2 separate regions of the Homo sapiens genome follow, and region 2 is linked to region 1. The links come from fine-mapping of genetic effects on gene expression. A gene starts in region 1. The other region holds a variant in brackets. All regions are shown on one strand. Distances are between the middles of the regions. Region 1 holds the start of NBL1 (NBL1, DAN family BMP antagonist). Region 2 has its middle 8.8 kb from the start of MICOS10-DT.

Evidence for each region.
Region 2: its variant is fine-mapped to the expression of NBL1 in whole blood (Lepik 2017, PIP 0.95).

The regions. Positions count from the first base shown.
Region 1 is chr1:19,643,179-19,645,678 of GRCh38, forward strand. It overlaps NBL1 (NBL1, DAN family BMP antagonist), which reads left to right and starts at 1,133. Exons shown (of 4, transcript NM_005380.8): 1 at 1,133-1,268. All of the region lies in intron 1 of MICOS10-NBL1 (MICOS10-NBL1 readthrough), which reads left to right. RefSeq lists an enhancer at 145-980 and a silencer at 879-1,218.
Region 2 is chr1:19,586,561-19,589,501 of GRCh38, forward strand. No RefSeq gene overlaps it. Among named protein-coding and RNA genes, the nearest start is that of MICOS10-DT, 8.8 kb to the right of the region's middle. The variant C/A (reference allele first, on the strand shown) is at 1,029.

The sequences.
Region 1 (2,500 bases):
GGGAAGGGAATTCCGGGCAGAGGGAAGGGCGCAGGCAACAGCTAGGAGGCGCAGATGCAGGCTGGGTGTGGAGGGTGCGAGTAGGCTGGAGTACACCAGGGAGTTCCCAGCAGGCCACTAGGAGCCACCCAGGATGCCCGGCAACCTCATGAGTCAGACAAGCAGGGCTGTGTCTATCTGGAAGTTTCCAGCCAAGCTAGGTAAAACACATGGACACAGGTAACTATGCTGTAAAGCAAAATCCCCAAGTCCTACAATCGTGTCCCAGTGGTGTCCCTGGGCCACCACTTTCCAGAAGCAAAGTTATTTTCTCACCCCGTTGTTAAGCACACAGAATAGAGAAGGTACGGCCGCAATCCACCCAAGTGCCCACTGATTAGATAGGAACCCCCGAGGTGAGGCTGGAAGCTGGGGCCAGGAGCTCCACTCTTCCCAGGAGTCAGAGAAGTGAGTTCATTTGCTGGCTTTTTAGTTCCTAATAAGTCCCTGGGGCTTTTCGGGATGCTTAAGCCAAGGGCGTGGGGCCGAGAGCGACACTAGGATAACACTAGGCAAGGCTGAGCAACCCAGGCTACCAACAGCACGGACTTGAACCGGGTCGCATGCCGGAGCGGACGGGATGAGGTGCACCGCAGAACTGGGGACTCCTGGTGCCGGGACGCGGCGGGCTGGGGCGCCCCACTCTCGGGGCAAGTCTGCAATGCCCGGTGCCCACAAAAAGGACACATCCATCTTTGTCACCCCGAGGCCTGGCACGGCCTGACGGCCCAGGCTCGGTAAAAGTCGGGCGGAGAGAGTGGAAGCGCAGAGAAACCCGGGGAGGGCGCTTAAGAACGGGCCAGGGCGCCCGGCTGGGCTGCCCTGCCTCTCGGGCGCCGGCCAGGCGTCCCGGCCGCCCCACCACGCCGTCGGAGCGCGCCGAAGCTCAGCCCGGGGCGGGCGGGCCAGGAGAGGGCCCGGGGCCCCTGCCGCCGCGGCGCCCCCTCCTGCGCACCCGGAGGGAGAGGCCGCGCGCGCCCGCCCGCTCTTTCTGCGCGCGGCCCTCCCCGCTGCCCCCGCCCTCGCGCCCTGTTTGGAGGGAGCCACCCTGACGTCGGAGCCGCTCCCCCGCGCCGCGCGCCCGCCCGGGGCCGCAGACAGCGCGCAGCGCAGCCCAGCCGAGCGTCGCGGGGCCGCCCCCCGCCCTGCCGGCCGCCTCGCCGAGCCTCCTGGGGCGCCCGGGCCCGCGACCCCCGCACCCAGCTCCGCAGGACCGGCGGGCGCGCGCGGTAAGTCCCGCCCGGGTCGGCACGCGGGCGCCCGGCTTCCAGAGGCTTCGGCCGCGGGGGCAGTGCCGCGCCCCCAGCCCGGAGCTGCGTCCCCCGGCGCGTCCGGCGGCCGCGGGCACCGGGTGGAGGCGCCGCCGCCGAGCTCAGGAGCCCTGGGGGACCTGGCGGGCGCCTCCGGACGCCGGCGCTGGGGACGTGGGCGCGGCACGGGGTGGCCGGGGGGCACCGCCGCGTCCGGAGCCCGTCCCCAGACTCGCCCCAGGGTTCCGTTTCTGGATCGGAGTTTCCGCGGCCGGGGGAGAGAGGGAGCGAGGGAGGGAGATGCGTGGCCGGGCGGGCCGGGCTCGCATGTCCCCCGGCCGTGCCCGGGCCTCGCCGCGCCGCGCCTCTCGGCTCTGGACGTTTCCGCCTCCCGCGGCCCCCTCTGCTTCGGTCCCCACGTCCGTGTGTCTGTCTCTCCGTCGCTCCGTTTCCGCCGCTCACTTTCCCCTGGTCTGCCCGTCTCTTTCCGTTCCCCGCCTGCCTCCGTGTTCGGCTGCCCGCGTTTGTGTCTCTGCCTCTGGCTTTTCTCTCCCTCTCTCTGTCTCTGCGCTGCCCTCTGTGGGGGTCTCGCCCTGTGTCTGCGCCTCTCCCTGATCCCCCGCCCTCCGATCCAGACAATCCCCCAGTGTCGGAGGCTCGCCTTCCCCCAGCGGGGTTCACGAATAGTTTCCTAGACCGGGTGCGGCAAACCCTCCCCCTGCCTCCCGCCGGCCCCGAGGCCTGGCCCGGGTCATCTCCCTGGAATTGAGTCTGGGGCAGGGAGAGCCAGCCTTTCCGGGGGCTCAGTTTTCTTAAGAATTCCACCCCCGCGAGGCCGGCTGGACGACAGGCCCTGCTGCGGGCCACCTGCCCGGCCCGCTCCCAGGGCGGGGCGATTCTGATCGTTTACAAGCGGCGGCAAAGGGGGCAGCCGCCTGCCTTGGCGTGGCCGGAGGTTGGCGGGCATCAAGGGAGAAAGCCACACTTCCAGGCTTTCGGAGGCCCTCGCTCCCCAAGCTGGACGCCACCAGCCTGTAACTAGGGGCACCCCAGGAAAACAGAGGTCAGGGCTGGAGGCCAAAGACCGGGCGCTGGCGGGGAAGCAATTTGTCAACAAGGAGCCCCTCACCCTTTGTTACTGCGGAATGGGGCCTCCCTAGACTCCCCCAGATGCTGGGGCTGCTTGGGCGTGGTTTGCCTTGAGTTGGGGC
Region 2 (2,941 bases), 56 kb before region 1:
AGTGGCCAAGATGGTGCCACTGGTGCCACTGCACTTCAGCCTGGGTGATGAAGTAAGACTCCATCTCAAAAAAAAAAAAAAAGATAAATAAAGGTGAAAAATGGATGAGAGTTTAATAAAAGGGCTATTTACAAGCAGCGAGGAATGGTGCAGTACCCTAGAGTTAGTAACAGTGGGAGCCCTTCCCAGCCTTAGGCCCGAAGGTCCAAGGGGAGGCAGCAAGCACATTCATGAGTCACTTAAACACAGGGATATATGCTGAGAAACACGCTGTTAGGCGACCTTGTCGTCATGCAAACATCATGGAGTGTACTTCATGCTCCAGCCTACTACACACCCAGACTATGGCAGAGCCTATTGCTCCTAGGCTGCAAACCGGTACAACGTGTTACTGTACTGAATACTGCAGGCAATAGTAGCACAATAGAAAGTGTGTACCTAAACATATCTAAACATAGAAAAAGTACAGTAAAAATACAGTTTTGTTTGTTTTTTTGTTTGTTTTGAGACAGAGTCTCACTCTGTCGCCCAGGCTGGAGTACAGTGGCACCATCTCTACTCACTGCAACCTCCACCTCCTGGGTTCAAGTGATTCTCCTGCCTCAGCCTCCCGAGTAGCTGGGATTATAGGCATGCACCACCACGACTGGCTAATTTTTGTATTTTTAGTAAAGACGGGTTTTCACCATGTTGACCAGGCTGGTCTTGAATTCCTGACCTCAGGTGATCCACCCGCCATGGCCTCCCAAAGTGCTGGGATTACAGGCGTGAGCCACCACGCTTGGCCATAAACATATATAAACACAGAAAAAGTACAGTACAAATACAGTATTATAATCTTATGGGACCACCATTAGATTGCAGATGACAGAAACGGCATTATGCGGTACATGACTTACTATACAGGAATCTGAAGAGGCTGGGCTTGGTGGCTCATGCCTATAATCCCAGCACTTTGGAAGGCTGAGGCAGGGGATCACTTGAGCCCAGCCTGGGCAACATGACAAAATACGGTCTCCACACACACA[C/A]AAAAAAATCAGGTGTGATGGTGGCTTATGCCTGTAATCCCAGCTACTCAGGAGGCTGAGGTGGGAGAATTGCTTGAGCTTGGAAAGCGGAGGTTGCAGAGAGCCAAGATCATGCCACTGCACTCCAGCCTGAGCAACAGAGTGAGACTCTGACTTAAAAAAAAAAAAAGAAAGAACGAATCTAAAGAGGTGAGTCCACAGAAAGGCCCACCTGGTAAGACAGGCATGACTACATGTGCAGAACCAGCAGTTAACGGCAGAGTGGAGACTGGGGTGCAGCTCTCATGATCTTCAATCCAGTGTGCTCCCTGCTGTGTTAGTTCTCTCACGATGTCATAACAAAGGACCACAAACTGGTGGCTTTGAAACAACAGAATTATAGTGTTTCTCAGTTCCAAAGACTGGAAGGCCAAAGTCAAGGCGTCAGCAGGACTGATTCCTTTCAGGGGACTCAGAGAGAGCATCCGTTCCATGCCTTTCTTCTGGCGCCTGGTGCTTGCTGGCGATCCGTGGTCTTCCTTGGCTTATATCCACATAAGCCAAATTATCTGCCTGTGTTGTCACAGGGTCATCTTCTCTGTTTTTGTGTTTCTTCTTCTTTTCTTATGGGGACACCAGTCTTTTTGGTTTAGTGTGCATCTCACTCCAGTATGAGCTAATCTTTTTTTTTTTTTTTTTTTTTTTGAGACAGGGTCTCACTATCGCCAGGCTGGAGTGCAGTAGTAGTGGTGTGATCTTAGCTCACTGCAGCCCTTGCCTCCTGGGCTCCAGTGATCCTCCCACCTCAGCTTCCCAAGAAGCTGGGACTATAGGCATGCACCACCACGCCTGGCTAATTTTTAACATTTTTTGTACAAACAAGGTCTCACTATATTGCCCAGGCTGGTCTCAAACTCCTGGACTCAAGTGATCCTCCCACTTCGGCCTTCCAAAGTGCTGGGATTATAGGTGTGAGCCACAGCACCTGGCCTAATTTTAACTAATTACTTTTTTTTTTTTGACACAGAGTTTTGCTTTTGTCATCCAGGATGGAGTGCAGTGGTGCAATTTCGGCTCACTACAACCTCTGCCTCCTGGGTTCATGTGATTCTTCTGTCTCAGCCTCCCTAGTAGCTGGGATTACAGGCGCCTGCCACCATGCCAAGCTAAGCCACCATGCCAAGCTAATTTTTCTATTTTTAGTAGAGAGGAGTTTCATCATGTTGGCCAGGCTGGTCTCGAACTCCTGACCTCAGGTGATCTGCCCGCCTCGGCCTCTCAAAGTGCTGGGATTACAGGCATGAGCCATCGCACCCAGCCAACTAATTACATTTTCAACAACCCTATTTCCAAATGAGGCCACACTGTGAGGTTCTAGGAAGGACATCAATTTGGGGGGACACTATTGAACCCAGCACACCTTCTTCAAGTTGGCAAGGCATCACTTTAGCAAAATGTCTCTGTCAATTTCCCTTCTCTTTCAGGGCCTCTTTGATTTGATTGGAATCCCCCAGTCCTGCTACATTATATATTCAGAGTACATGACTAGTAGCTCACTCACAGGAAAGAGCAAGCACTACCCCAATGAGATACTAGCAGACACCTACCAGACTGGCAACAATACTAAAGTATCATTACAGCCTAACTGTTGGTGAGGACATGGAGTAACAGGAATGGTCATATGCTGCTGGGGACAATGTAAATTGGTACAATCACTTTGGGATAAAGTTTGGCAGTATCAAGTGAAGCTGAAGGTATACATACCCTATCGCCCTCCTGACTTACATATTCTATAAAAATATATGCCCATTGAGCCGGGCGTGGTGGCTCACACCTGTAATCCCAGCATTTTGGGAGGCTGAGAATGGTGGATCCCTTGAGCCCAGGAATTCGAGACCAGCCTGGGCAACATAGCAAAACCATGTCTCCACACA